Linked DNA regions of Homo sapiens. The protein of the gene in region 2 interacts with the protein of the main gene of each other region in a pairwise test. Each region holds a gene or a part of one and is shown on either strand. Other genes may lie near its edges. The genes, in order: KRTAP11-1, LIMS4, ARID5A and GMCL2.

Region 1 (3,245 bases), on a different chromosome or scaffold from region 2:
AACTAAGATACCCTCTGTGGTGGGAAGAGCATAGCCACAACATTGTGGAAAGTAGTCATCTCATTAATTTCACCCCGTTCCTGGGAACACATGGTGAGTCACTGAGGGAGGGTCAGGACATTGAGGTCTGATATCTGGGAATCATGCTATTGCTCACAGCACCCTCTTCTTTGGGTGTGTCGTTAGTTTCCAATTAGGGATTTCTGATGAGTCCTGACATAACGCTGTTTGCTTTGTGGATATTTAAAACATAGCTTACCTGTAGCCCTCAAATACATGGAAATCCATTTTATTCCCTTACGCTCCCTCATGTAAGCTAGTTTAAAAATGAGTCAGATGCTACAGCTGTTTTGGGACAGAAATACCACTGACCACTTGAAGCGATGTTGAAGTTGCTTATTTTGCCAGAGTTGAGGCAGTTTATTCATCTATGTTCAGGTGGACCCAAACGAGCCATCATTCTGGTGTTTAAAATTCATTATATTGTAGTGAGATGAAATAAAATAGAGTGATATCCCTATAGCTTCCCCAAGCATAAAAAGAATAATTAAATATAGCACACTCTTCACACATCTCTTCATTACCAAACATTGATTAAGTGCCTGCTTCCCCCAGCTCTGCCTCCCCCTTATCCCTGATGGAGACAATGACCTTGAAGAGCCTTTAGTTTGTCCATAATTAAAATGCATTCTATCTATATGTGTGAAAATAAATATCTTTTGAACATATTGAACAAATTGGGAGAAAGACACTGTACCCTTTCAAATTAACATTATGATAATTTTAAAAATTAACTAAGCCTTTTCCACTGGCATATTAATGAGACCCAGGAGTCACTATTATCCACTGTTATTAAATTAAACATTTTAGGAATAAAGCTCATCCAATTTACTTAGAAAAGGTCTTGGCTACAAATACAGTTGCACTTAGTTAGCTTCTAATTTGCTTTGTTGGTTGAACATAAAGGGTGGGTCCCACTGCCCTCTAGCCTTCCCACGGGCATCTTGTTTGAGTCAGTTGATTAATTTTGAGAGCCAGCTCAGACTTTGGATACAAGTCTCTGTGCCCTTTGTTCCTGTCAAGTGTTGTCACTGTTGTCTTGAAACATATTCAAGGAGGCACCTTCCCAATGAGGAGCTCCGTTAGGTGTGGTAGAGTGACTGATTAAGTTATGTTTAAAAGATATTAAGTCCAGTGACAAATGAAACAGGGCATGGGCTTGTAATTGGTCCTGGTAGGGAGGGAGAGAGTGTGTGATGGTAGGATGGTGGCATCTTTGGTAGGATGAGTGTCAGGTCAACACTCATCATAAGCAAGATGAATGAGGGACAACGTGTGGGCTGGGATGACCAATAGCTTTGAAGCTGCCAACCAGCCTTCTTAATCAGACTAAGTACAGTACAGAAGACTTGTGATTTAGTTACCAAACTACTAAACTTTCTTTATGAGGGTGAAGGCTTCTTAAGAGACAATTAATGTGTAGATTCACAAGATGTTCTAAGGCAAACTGGTCTGAGCCAAAGAAGCCACGGAGACCAGGGAGAGAGCCCCACCCACCAGCAAGGATATATAAAAGCTCAGGAGTCTGGAGTGACATTCACAACTCAGGAGGTAACTTCAGCAAGCTACCTGCAGCCCTCTGTCTGACATCATGTCCTTCAACTGCTCCACAAGAAATTGCTCTTCCAGGCCCATTGGAGGACGCTGCATTGTTCCAGTGGCCCAAGTTACCACGACTTCCACCACTGATGCTGACTGCCTGGGCGGCATCTGTTTGCCCAGTTCCTTCCAGACTGGCTCTTGGCTCCTGGACCACTGTCAAGAGACCTGCTGTGAGCCCACTGCTTGCCAGCCAACCTGTTACCGGCGAACTTCATGTGTCTCCAACCCTTGCCAGGTGACTTGCTCTCGACAAACTACCTGTATTTCCAACCCCTGCTCAACTACCTACAGCCGGCCGCTCACCTTTGTCTCTAGTGGATGTCAGCCCCTGGGAGGCATCTCCAGTGTCTGCCAACCAGTGGGCGGCATCTCTACTGTCTGCCAACCAGTGGGAGGAGTCTCTACTGTCTGCCAGCCAGCCTGTGGGGTCTCCAGGACGTATCAGCAGTCCTGCGTGTCCAGCTGCCGAAGAACCTGCTAAGTGTGTAGGAGCCAGTGAGCGAATCAAGACTCCACGACCTGCCAGCTGTTTCCAGGATCTTCCAGCATGCTGCTTGTCCCTGAATAGCTCTTCATAGCTGACCCTTCTTGTGACCGCCTGACTGCTGGCTACTATCCATGCACACGCTGTCTTTAGCACTCTAAAATTTTTCTGGCCAGCCCTAAGCTTGTTTTAAGGGTTGCTCACTGGTGCTGTGTATGCCTCTGGATGTGTCCAGAAGCTTTACCATCCACACCCCAGTCTCTGATGCTTTTGACATGTTTTCACCTTGCTGCTGTATCTCCTGGCCTCTGCTTTTGTGTCTCACAAAAACAGAGCTTGTCTCACCATGTATTTCTCAATAAACCTGCATTAGTTGGCATTGCAAATGTATGTCTCAGCAGAATTCTTTTTTAAACATTTCAACTTTTAATTTAGTTTTTGCGGGGTACATGTGCAGGTTTGCTACAGGGGTATACTGTGTGATGCTGAGGTTTGGGGTATGATTGAACCCATCTGTCAGGTATTGAACATAGTACCCAATAGGTAGTTTTCCAACCCTTTTCCTCTTCCTCACTCCCCGCTCTTCCAGTTGCCAGTGTCTATTGTTTTTATCTTTATGTCCACGTGTACCTAATGTTTAGCTCCTACTTATTAGTGAGAACAGGTGGTATTTAGTTTTCTCAACAGAGCTCCTTGTTTGCAAGAGTCTTTGCTGATCAGGGTCTGATTTTTTTTTTCCTGAGCCTAGAATATGGGCTTAATCATTATGCCCTGTGACCAAACCAAGGATTATCTTATATTTTACTTGTTCAGAGAGAGTCTTCAGCTGTGCGGTGAAGTAAGGGCTATGATTTTTCTTTTCTTTTCTTTCTTTCTTTTTCTTTTTCTTTTTTTTCTTTTTTTTGAGATGGAGTCTCACTCTGTCGCCCAGGCTGGAGTGCAGTGGCACGATCTTGGCTCACTGTAAACTCTGCCTACTGGGTTCAAGTGATTCTCCTGCCTCAGCCTCCAGAGTAGCTGGGATTACAGACGTTCACCACTACGCCCGGCTAATTTTTGTAGTTTTAGTAGAGACAGGTTTCACCACGTTGGCCAGGCT
Region 2 (3,815 bases):
TCTTCTGCATCATTACATAGCAGAGGGCATCACATGGTGGGGGAAGAGGAGGGGGGAAGGAAGAGAAGGAAGGAGGCTGAACTCATCCTTTTATAAGGAACCCACCCCCTCAGTAACAGTGTTAATCCATCTGTGAGGGCAGAGCCTTCATGATGTAATCACCCCTTAGAGGTCCTACCTCTCAACACCTCTGCATTGGGGATCATGAACTTTGGGGACACAGTCACACCATAGCAGGTAGTATTACTGAGTCTACCCTCAGCACTGTGATTATTCCCTGTAGCTTTTAAAGGAAGACAAATGGACTAAAATGGAATGTGATAATACAAGAAGGAAATTATGAATATGACTGGTGTGGTGGTATGTATCTGACCTAGTCTTGCATCTTATCCTTTTAAGATACAGATGTTTTGGTAGGAGTCTGAAACCTGTTCGGGCCTATTAATTCAGGTTATTCTGATCACCTCTAAAGGGGAAAAAAGAAATTTGCAGGGATTGTCATAGTAATATCTTTAAAAACCTTCTAAAAAGTGTGCTAGCCCCATCGGTTGGCCATTTTTCTCTCTTAGTATTAAGCTGGGTGTCTTTCTCACAGACAGGAAGGATCTGACTGCCGATGCACAGGAGCTGAAAGGGGAGCTATACTGCCTGCCATGCCATGATAAAATGGGGGTCCCCATCTGTGGCGCTTGCCGACGGCCCATCGAAGGGCGTGTGGTGAACGCCATGGGCAAGCAGTGGCATGTGGAGGTGAGTTCTAAATGGTAAAGGGTAACCAATCCTTTCAAATCTCCATGATTAAGGAGTAACCAATACTTTCAAATCTCCATGATTAAGGGGTAACCAATCCTTTCAAATCTCCATGATTCAGGGATAACCAGTACTTTCAAATCTTCATGATTCAGGTGTCCTGGCAAGATTAGGAGACTCTAAAGATTAAACGTGGACATTTTAAAGACAATTGACTTTGCTGACAGCTAAGAATATAGAAGGTACACTGCTTTTGTGAATGTCTCAGTAATGATACAAGATGTGCACTTTTGCTCCTAAAGCCTTCTTGAAGCAGGAAGTGCCATGGTCTGTATCCAGCAGCAGCTCCTCCTTTATAGGTGCTACTGAGATGCTCACCTCTATTCTCTTTTTGGGCTATTATAATAGGCTGTGTCTTAAAGTAACCTTCAAAGACAGACACCTGAATTACAACTGCAGAAGTATTATGTTATGGGGCCACCTATGGCCAAATGAAATGACTGTCTCAAACTTTCCTTCATCTTCTCTGAAAATAGGTTAACTCTGGTGTTTACTTTATTAGATATAAAATATGGCAATTCAAAAATGACCTATAGCAATTTTTTTTCAGCATTTTGTTTGTGCCAAGTGTGAGAAACCCTTTCTTGGACATCGCCATTATGAGAGGAAAGGCCTGGCGTATTGTGAAACTCACTATAACCAGGTATTGACCTTAGTCACTGGATGCTAGATAGACTTTTATGAACCTAAGCTTATCAGTAGTTTAGCTACAAGGAAATCTCTTGGAAGATGTACATTGTTCAGTAGAGATTTGTTTTTAACTTTTTATTTGGGAAATAATTTCAGACTCAGAAGCTAACTATAAAAATACAAAGAATACCTGTATGTCTTTCATTCAAGTCCACAGTTTGCTTTATCATTTCCCACGCTCAGTCTTCCTGTGTAAAACACATACTTACATAAATATTATATACAAGTACGATGGCTGTTTCTAAAGCATTTGCCAATAAGTTCATCATACTCCTTTACCCCTAAATACTTCAGTGTATATTTCCCAAGAATATGGGACTCTCTAACATAATTGTAGTTATCAATATTGATACCGTACTTTAACCCATTTATTCCAGTTTTATCACTTGAGTCAGTAATATCCTCACAGCATTTTTTCCACTCCCAGACTGGACCCAGCCTAGGGCTGTGATGTTTCTTTAGCTTTCTTAAATCTGGAACGTTTCCAGAGTCTTTTAAAATTTTTGATGACATTGACATTTTGGAGGGATGCAGAGGGCCCCTAACCCCTTTTTAATAGACTACTTTCCACTTGGGTTCACCTGGTGCTTCTCTGTGCTTAGATGAGGTTATACACAGCAGGTTGTGGCCTCATACAGTGGCAGGGCATCTTCTCAGAACCTTGCCCCTGGAGCATTTTATACCTCTCCTGCACTGGTGATCTCCCAGGCATGGTGCTGGCTGATAACATCACTGTGAATTACAATTTCCTTCCCTCCTCTGTAAGAAAGAAGCAATCTGTGGGCAATCATTCTATGACCATGGAAATGTCCTGTTCCTCATCAACCCGCCCTAGATTCAGCACCCCTTGATGATTCTTGTCTCTGCGCCAGCTGCAAACAATACTTCTCCAGCCCCATGCCCTCCACCCATAGTCTGGTCCTCAGCGCTCTGCCTGAGCAAGAACCCACCTCCTCTCCCGTCTATAGGTTTATTCATTTATCTATTTCTTATCCATATGGACTCACAGATTTCTATATTTTGCATCACTTATTTGGGTGTTCAAACTGTCATCCGGGAAGTTTTTCTTTTAATTGATGAGAGTGAATTACTTTCATTGTAAGAAGTAAAAACTTGTCAAAGAACTTTTACTAATTTTCTCTAGTAGTGATAAATCCTCAATTTAGATAGCCAGCTATTTTTAAATGTTCAGTGTTCTAAAAATTCTAACACATCTTGAACTTTGACCACCTTTTTTTATTTTCAGCTATTTGGTGATGTTTGCTTCCACTGCAATCGTGTTATAGAAGGTGATGGTAAGTATCTGTGTGAGTTTTAGATTGGTGCCACTTTGACACAAAAACACTTGGGGAATGTGGAAATTCAGGTTGGTGATTGCTATGGTTTGAAATGTGATCGTTATCAGTTACTTTTTCTCTATCTTTGGCGTATTTTCCAAGTAATCTGTAGCAGTAAGATGATAATATCAAAGAGTTGGATTTGTTACTGATTTATGACACTACTTTTGGCCACTGCTGTAGTGTTGTATGCCAGCAATCATGGGAACTGTCCCTGGTGGACCCTAAGACCTGTTTCTGTGTCCAGTTTCAGGAAGCTCTAGAACAACGTTTATTAGGAAGAGTTTAATCTGCTATCGTAGTTAGCAAGAGGCACTTTAACCTGCACATGCTAAAAGCTGGCAGTTATCAGCAAGCATATCTAGGACTTACCACCCTTGTACTGTGGTAATTAGGCTGGGCTGATTGATTGGAACAGAAAGGAAGCAGCTGTGTTTGCTAAGACTCGCTAACACACTTCTGCCAGAGACTTCCTGGCAAAGTTTTGAACGATACTGTTTTCAGCATGATTCATGGCTGCCTGCAGACATCACCTAATTCAGGAAATACTTTTGAAACTGTTCATGTGCAGTTTGTGAAAACAATCCAGGAAAACAATCTTTAGTGCCATTGAAAATAAAACTTACCTCCCTCCTCTGTGAAATAGATGCCAGGTGAAAGAAGCTGCAGAGGAAACTGTCTTGTTATCATCAGCTCTGGAAAAAAGACTCCTACAGAGGCAAATAAGTTAATGTCTGGATTTTTGAAAATTATTTACCTAGTTCATATTTCCTAGTTGGGCCAACAGCAGTAGGGACAGAAACAGCAAGCTCACCTAAACAACATGATGCATGGACAGTTGCCACATGTGCCCAGGCCAAGGGGGCACAGTTGCTGGTGTAAGACATGGCACACATCATTTATAACTTCACAGGATACTTAAGGATGGGGGAAGATTAAAGTCAGCCCTCCGTATCCAGGGGCTGGATCCAAACATCC
Region 3 (3,815 bases), about 14 Mb from region 2:
GAGAGCTAAAGGATCCCATGGCTGTGGCCCCAAAGCAACACAGGGGTCCCTGGGTAGTAGTTCCTCTGGGAATATTCAGGAATATCTGACCTTTCCCTGAGCATCTGCAGAGTTCTAACTGCCCTAATAAGGCCACATGCTCTCCTCACCTACAAGGGTCCTGGTGACCCCTCAGGTCTCTGCTGACAAGTGCCTTCCTCTGGGTGGCCTCCTCTGGCCCCTGGCCACGGGCAGCTCCTCCCTCGCCCTAGGCTACTCACAGCCATCCTGGCTGAACTGCCTGTGGCTCCTGGGGCTCCCTGATAGTTCGGTGAGGCTTCCCATACCCCACACAGCAGGTGCCAAGCTGGAATGAGCAAGGCTCACAACAACCCTGCGTGGTGGGCAGGAGAAGCCATGGGCTGTATTTTACTAAGAACCACCATGTGCTGATGGTTGCAAAAACGCAACACCTCTGCCACTGCAAAAACCACAACCACTGGAAACTGCCTGAGGCCACACAGCAGGCTGGCAGCAGATACCAGACCAGGAACCCACATCTTCTGACAACCTTTTCTTTCTGTCCTTTGTTCTTTTGTTAATCAAGTATGAATTGGTTCACTCCCTCCCAGGACATCCTTATTGTTAGGAACCTATGAGATTTCCCTTCCATCCCAGACAGAAAAAGAATCTCCTCAGGAACAAGAAACCCAAACCAGCGTAAGCCAGGGGCCAGTGGTACTCAGAGGCACAGGGTAGAATCCTTGGCCACTGAGTGGTCCTGCTTTGGTAGGTGTTCTTATGTCTTCCCTCCATGTTGATGGCTGCTGACTGATTTCAGGGTGGTGGTTTCTTGGGCTGGGGTGACTGTGGCAATTTCTTAAAATAAGACAACAATGAAGTTTGCCACATCCATTAACTCTTTTTTTTTTTTTGAGTCAGAATCTTGCTCTGTTGCCCAGGCTGGAGTGCAGTGGCGTGATCTTGGCTCACTGCAATCTTCGCCTCCCAGGTTCAAGTGATTCTCCTGCCTCAGCCTCCCGAGTAGCTGGGACTACAGGTGCGTGCCACTAAGCCCGGCTAATTTTTGTATTTTTAGTAGAGACGGGGTTTCACCATATTGGCCAGACTGGTCTCAAACTCCTGACCTCATGATCCACCCACCTCGGCCTCCCAAAGTGCTGGGATTACAGGCATGAGCCACTGCACCTGGCAACTCTTCCTTTCATGAAAGACTTCTCCATGGCATGCATGTGATGCTATTTTTGACAGCATTTTATCCACAGCAAAACTTTCAAAACTGATGTCCCTCCTCTCAAACCCTGCTGCTGCTTTATCAACTAAGTTTCTGTAACATTCTAAATCCTTTGTTGTCATTTTGACAATGTTCACAGCATCTTCGCCAGTAGATTCCACCTCAAGAAGCCACTTTAGGATGGGCGCGGTGGCTCACGCCTGTAATCCCAGCACTTTGGGGGCCAAGGTGGGTGGATCACCTGAGGTCAGAAGTTTGAGACCAGCCTGGCCAACGTGGCGAAACCCTGTCTCTACTAAAAACACAAAAGTCAGCTGGGTGTGGTGGCAGGTCCCAGTAGTCCCAGCAACTCAGGAGGCTGAGGCAGGAGAATCCTTTGAACCTAGGAGGCGGAGGCTGCAGTGAGCTGAGATTACTCCACTGTACTCCAGTCTGGGCGATGGAACAAGACTCTGTCTCAAAAAAAAAAAAAAAAAAGAAAAAGAAAAAGAAAAGAAAAGGAAAGAAAAAAAAAGAAGAAAAAAAGTCACTTTCTTTGCCCACCCATAAAAAGCAACTCCTCATCCACTCAAGTTTGATCATGAGATTGCAGCAATTCAGTCTCATCCTCAAGCTCTGCTTTCTAACTCTAGTTCTCTTGCTGGTTCCACTGCATCTGCAGTGTCTTCTCCACTGAAGTCTTGAAGCCCTCAAAGTCATCCAGGAAGGTTGGAATCAAATTCTCCCAAATGCTTGGATATTTTGACCTCCTCCCACGAACCACAAATGTACCTGAAATGCTCTCCGGAGGTTTTCAATGTATTTTGCCCATCAGAGGAATCACTATCTATGGCAGCTACAGTCTTACAAAATGTATTTCTTAAATAATAAGACTTGAAACTTAAAATTACTCCTTGATCCTTGGCTCTAGAATAAATGTTGTGCTAGTAGGCATGAAAACAACATGCAGCTCCTGGTACATTTTCATCAGCGCTCTTGCATGACCGGTTGCCTTGTCAATGAACAATAATATTTTGAAAGGAATCCTTTTTTCTGAGCAGTAGGTCTCAACAGTTGGCTTAAAATACTCAGTAAACCATGTTATAAACAGATGTGCTGTCATCCAGGCTTTGTTATTTCATTTTTAGAACACAGAGTGAGTAGATTTAGCATAATTCTTAAAGGTTCTAGGTTTTTTGGAATGATAAATGAGCACAGGCTTCAACTTAAAGTCACCAGTACCAGCTGCATTAGCCCCTAACAAGAGAGTCAGCCTGTCTTTTGAAGCCATGCATTGACTTCTCCTTAGCTATGAAAGTCCTAGATGACATCTTCTTCTGATACAAAGCTGTTTCATCTACATGGAAAATCTGTGGTAGTGTGGCCACCTTCATCAGTGATCTTAGCTGGATCTTCTGGATAAATTGCTGCAGCTTCTACACCAGCCCTGGTTGATTCGCCTTGCACTTTTATGTGATGGTGATGGCGTCTTTCCTTAAACCTCATGAAGCAACCTCTGCTAGCTTCCAACTTTTCTTCTGCAGCTTCCTCACCTCTCTCAGCCTTCACAGCATTGGAGATTTAGAGCCTTGGTCTGGATTAGGCTTTGTCTTAAGGGAATGTTATGGCTTGTTGGATCTTCTATCCAGACTTCTCAAACTTTCTCCATTATCAGCAATAAGGCTGTTTTGCTTTACCATGCGTGTTCACTGGAATAGCACTTCTGATTTCCTTCAATAACTTTTCCTTGGCATTCACAACTTGACAAACTGGTGCAAGAGGCCTAGCTTTCGGCCTATCTGGGCTTTCGACCTGCCTTCCTCACTAAGTTTAATTATTTCTAGTTTTTTTATTTAAAAGTAAAGACCTGTAACTCCTCCTTTCACTTGAACACTTAAAGACCATTGTAGGACTGTTAATTGGCCCAGTTTCAATATTGTTGTGCCTTAGGCAACAGGGAGGCCAAAGAAGAGAAAGAGAGGAAGAGAGATGGGGAATGCTGGTCGATGGAGCAGGTGGAGGAGGAGCACACACAACATTTATCGATTTAGTTCACTGTCTTTGTGGGTGGGGTTCATGGTACCCCAAAACAATGACAATAGGAACATCAAAGATCACTGATCACAGATCACCATAACAGATATAATAATGAAAAAGTTTGAAATGTTGTAAGAATCACCAAAATGTGACACCGAGACACAAAGTGAGCACGTGCTGTTAAAAAATGGCATCGATAGACTTGCTCGATGCTGGGTTGCCACAAACCTTCAATGAGTAAAAAATGCTGTATTTGTGAAGTACAATAAAGCAAAGCATGATAGAGCAAGGTGTGCCTGTACATTCTCTCCCTCAGTCCCGGAGGAATTCCATTTTAAAGAGGGGGAATCTGAAGCCAGAATGGTTATGGGTAAGTTGCTTGCCTCCCTGGGGGACCAGGATTCAAAACAAAGTCTGATTCTGGTCCAGTGGCTGCTGTGGTTATCAACATTTGCAAGGCCTTCATGAAGAGTCCAAGTAAGCCTGGAGAGAAACCAGTCCTAAGGCTTGTCAAAGAGAAAGAGACCAGGGCCACCCTCTTGGGCTAGCCTCTGACCCACCAGTC
Region 4 (4,366 bases), on a different chromosome or scaffold from region 2:
GCAGGGCAAATTTCCAGGACCATGCCCCACTTCTCCACTCCATCCCCCAAGGACAAAAGCCTCCTCAATTCCGACATCCTAATCCTGCTGCCCCTGTCTCCACAGATCCTCCCCACAGAGAATCCCTGCCTATCCTGCCCAGGCCCTCTGCTTGCTTCTGCCTTCCCAGACCGGCTGCAGTGATCATTTCACCCAGCCATGGTCACTTTCACCATATTGGCCAGGCTGGTCTTGAACTCCTGACCTCGTGATCTGCCCACCTCGGCCTCCCAAAGTGCTGGGATTACAGGTGTGAGCAGCCACCGTACCTGGCTTGACTTCAAGTCTTTATTCTATTTTATTTTATCTTATTATTTTTTTCTGGAGACGGAATTTCGCTCTTGTCGCCCAGGCTGGAATGTAATGATGCGATCTTGGCTCACTGCAACTTCTGCCTCCTGGGTTCAAGCAGTTCTCCATTTCAGCCTCCCGAAAAGCTGGGATTACAGGCGTGCACCACCACACCTGGCTAAATTTTATATTATTAGTAGAGATGGGGTTTCACCATGTTGGCCAGGCCAGTCTCAAACTCCTGACCTCATGTGATCCACCCACCTTGGCCTCCCAAAGTGCTGGGATTATAGGCATGAGCCACCGAGCCTGGCCTATTTTATTTTATTATTTTATTTTATTTTTGTGCCTGGTCGCAAATTTACATTGGACTGGTTAGGCTCAAGCGTCTGGTACACACATTTTCCTTTGTCAGGTCTTGCAAATAAAACTTTGCTCCTAGGGAAGTGGTCCTTCTAAAACGGACCTTGGTTTTGGCTGCCAGATGAGAATTGCTTCCAGCAATGAAGAATGCTGTCCAAGGAGTTCAAGACCACCCGGAGAAACACAGTGAAACCTTGTCTCTAAAAGAAATTGTTTTAGGCCGGAGGCAGTGGCTCACGCCTGTAGTCCCAGCACTTTGGGAGGCCAAGGTAAGAGGATCACCTGAAGTCAGGAGTTTGAGACCAGCCTGGCCAACATGGGGAAACCCCGCCTCTACTAAAAATACAAAAATTACCCAGGTGTGGTGGCGGGCGCCTGTAATCCCAGCTACTCAGGAGGCTGAGGCAGGAGAATCACTTGAACCCGCGAGGCAGAGGTTGCAGTGAGCCGAGATCGCGCCACTGCACTCCAGCCTGGGCGACAGAGCAAGACTCCGTCTCAAAAAAAAAAAAAAAAAAAAATTGTGGGGGAGGGGTGCGGAGGTTGGAGGCGGCAGTGTCCGCTGCAACGGTTGGGGCTGCGCGTGAGAAGGTGGCGGTGTAGGCACCTGTGCTCGGGGAAGGCTGGCGGCGGCGGCCGGGCCATGGCCAGAGACCCCCTCCTCTGGGCTCCCTGAAGTCCTGGGGAGCCGTGACCCATGGGATCGTCGAGCAGCCGGGTGCTGGGCCAGCCGAGGCGAGCCCTTGCCCAGCAGGAACAGGGTGCCAGGGCCAGGGGCTCGGCCCGGAGGCCGGACACTGGAGACGATGCGGCGAGCTACGGCTTCTGTTACTGCCCGGGCAGTCACAAGCGCAAGCGGAGCAGCGGGGCCTGCCGCTACTGTGACCCGGACTCGCACAGGGAGGAGCATGAGGAGGAGGGGGACAAGCAGCAGCCGCTCCTCAACACCCCTGCAAGGAAAAAATTAAGGAGTACATCCAAATATATTTATCAAACATTATTTTTGAATGGTGAAAACAGTGACATTAAGATTTGTGCTCTAGGAGAAGAATGGCGATTACACAAAATATATTTATGTCAATCTGGCTACTTTTCTAGTATGTTCAGTGGTTCTTGGAAAGAATCCAGCATGAATATTATTGAACTGGAGATTCCTGACCAGAACATTGATGTAGACGCACTGCAGGTTGCGTTTGGTTCACTGTATCGAGATGATGTCTTGATAAAACCCAGTCGAGTTGTTGCCATTTTGGCAGCAGCTTGTATGCTGCAGCTGGATGGTTTAATACAGCAGTGTGGTGAGACAATGAAGGAAACAATTAATGTGAAAACTGTATGCGGTTATTACACATCAGTAGAGATCTATGGATTAGATTCTGTAAAGAAAAAGTGCCTTGAATGGCTTCTAAACAATTTGATGACTCACCAGAATGTTAAACTTTTTAAAGAACTCGGTATAAATGTCATGAAACAGCTCATTGGTTCCTCTAACTTATTTGTGATGCAAGTGGAGATGGATGTATACACCACTCTAAAAAAGTGGATGTTCCTTCAACTTGTGCCTTCTTGGAATGGATCTTTAAAACAGCTTTTGACAGAAACAGATGTCTGGTTTTCTAAACAGAGAAAAGATTTTGAAGGTATGGCCTTTCTTGAAACTGAACCAGGAAAACCATTTGTGTCAGTATTCAGACATTTAAGGTTACAATATATTATCAGTGACCTAGCTTCTGCAAGAATTATTGAACAAGATGGTATAGTACCTTCAGAATGGCTGTCTTCTGTGTATAAACAGCAGTGGTTTGCTATGCTGCGGGCAGAACAAGACCGTGAGGTAGGGCCTCAAGAAATCAATAAAGAAGACCTAGAGGGAAATAGCATGAGGTGTGGTAGAAAGCTTGCCAAAGATGGTGAATACTACTGGTGTTGGACGGGTTTTAACTTCGGCTTTGACCTACTTGTAATTTACACCAATGGATACATCATTTTCAAACGCAATACACTGAATCAGCCACGCAGCGGGTCTGTCAGTTTACGGCCTCGAAGGAGCATAGCATTTAGATTACGCTTGGCTTCTTTTGATAGTAGTGGAAAACTAGTATGTAGTAGAACAACTGGCTATCAAATACTTATACTTAAAAAGGATCAGGAACAAGTGGTGATGAACTTGGACAGCAGGTTTCTGACCTTCCCTTTATATATCTGCTGTAACTTCTTGTATATATCACCAGAAAAAGGAATTGAAAATAATCGTCACCCAGAAAATCCAGAAAACTGAAGATCTCATCAGTTGGAAACAGTAGCACTTTGAAAACTTTCAGGCCAGCTTTAATTTAATGGCCCTACTGATATTCACATCTAAGTTGACTAACAATGACAAAGGCCTTATGAACTGTACGGACAATACAGAAGACTATTCTTATCCTCATTGCATTTCTATGCATATACAAAAAAAATCATTTTAAAGCCAAGAAAATATCTGTCAAACCATTTCTGTCAGTACGATGTCAACTCATGCTTTTAATTCAGCATCAGCAGAAAATGACTGTAGGTAAATCTCACATTTATCTGCAACAAAATATAGATTTAATTTTTAGCTTAAACTTTGTTTCTACCTTATGTTAGTGGACCTCAGTTATCCATCTGTAAATTTATTTTTATTTGGCTAAAATAATCTAAAAGAATAATTTGGATGGCCAATTAGAAATGCTCTTTTGAGCTGGGGCATTTAAAGCTTTCCTTTAATATTTTTACCTGCTCATTATGATTCCTCCTTTTAGTCTAATATCTTTCCAGTTCATACTTGTTTTTAATCATTAAATACTTTCTTCCTGGTTTGGAGACTAAGCTGAGAAACTTTTTTTAAACTTAAGCATTGTCATATGCTATTTTTTAAAATTTGGCTTTCCTAGGATTTTAAGAACAATGAAAGTTAGCTTCACACCTTCAAATGATCTTGAATGCGTGAAAAATCAGTTTGATTCCAGGGATATTTCTTGTCTTACATGGTCTTTTCTTTGACAGTCTGTACACCTTTATTATTAGTTTTTGAGTTATTTATGTACCAGATATTATACTTTTAAATATTTTAATATTCTCTGATCTTTACAATTATTTATGTTCAAATTTTAGTTGGGAGTTTTGTTTCCTACTTAAGCTCAGGACTTGATACCCTCTGAGATGAGTGGCTTTGAGTGACATGCTAACAGCAATTTCATAGTAAATGTAAATAAGGTCAGAGGATCTAACATAGAAGCTGATGACGCATTAATGTAAAAATGGAACTTATTTTTGTCAAAAATAAGATGTACACTTGTCATGATTTATATATGTTGACCTTTTGTGTTTACTGCTGTTTTGAATAGAGCCATGTTCATTTTCTTTCCAGTTAGAGTAAGTACTTCTGTGGTTAATGTATATTTTTATTCTGGCTTTTAAAATGGGAATAATTTGTATGTATCTGTGCAAATAATAAATGCGCATTTGGAAAAAGATTAAGTAAGCTCTTATATGAAATGGACCAAAAAACCCCCCTTAATTGAAACCAACATTTTTTTTCTTTCTAGTTAGATTTTTTTCCAACTCCTTTTAACTTTTGGAATTTACTAATAATTTTTTTTCTTTCTTAATGATATGTCCATAGGTTCATAAATTGCTTTTTCTTTTAAAATTC

The links.
Region 1: the proteins of LIMS4 (region 2) and KRTAP11-1 interact in binary tests that used the Homo sapiens proteins (3 or more experiments, as listed by UniProt).
Region 3: the proteins of LIMS4 (region 2) and ARID5A interact in binary tests that used the Homo sapiens proteins (3 or more experiments, as listed by UniProt).
Region 4: the proteins of LIMS4 (region 2) and GMCL2 interact in binary tests that used the Homo sapiens proteins (3 or more experiments, as listed by UniProt).

What each region holds. Positions count from the first base shown.
Region 1 is NC_000021.9:30,879,931-30,883,175, reverse strand, and holds KRTAP11-1 (keratin-associated protein 11-1), read left to right. Parts: upstream 1-1,595; 5' UTR 1,596-1,651; coding exon 1,652-2,143; 3' UTR 2,144-2,532; downstream 2,533-3,245. UniProt on the Homo sapiens protein: In the hair cortex, hair keratin intermediate filaments are embedded in an interfilamentous matrix, consisting of hair keratin-associated proteins (KRTAP), which are essential for the formation of a rigid and resistant hair shaft through their extensive disulfide bond cross-linking with abundant cysteine residues of hair keratins.
Region 2 is NC_000002.12:110,448,799-110,452,613, reverse strand, and holds part of LIMS4 (LIM and senescent cell antigen-like-containing domain protein 4), read left to right. Parts: exon of another isoform or gene 1-4; intron 5-595; exon of another isoform or gene 596-599; coding exon 600-750; intron 751-1,360; coding exon 1,361-1,453; exon of another isoform or gene 1,454-2,259; intron 2,260-2,746; coding exon 2,747-2,795; intron 2,796-3,463; exon of another isoform or gene 3,464-3,813; intron 3,814-3,815.
Region 3 is NC_000002.12:96,543,053-96,546,867, reverse strand, and holds part of ARID5A (AT-rich interactive domain-containing protein 5A), read right to left. Parts: intron 1-3,815. UniProt on the Homo sapiens protein: DNA-binding protein that may regulate transcription and act as a repressor by binding to AT-rich stretches in the promoter region of target genes.
Region 4 is NC_000005.10:178,184,324-178,188,689, reverse strand, and holds GMCL2 (germ cell-less protein-like 2), read left to right. Parts: upstream 1-1,318; 5' UTR 1,319-1,390; coding exon 1,391-2,971; 3' UTR 2,972-4,185; downstream 4,186-4,366. UniProt on the Homo sapiens protein: Possible function in spermatogenesis. Probable substrate-specific adapter of an E3 ubiquitin-protein ligase complex which mediates the ubiquitination and subsequent proteasomal degradation of target proteins.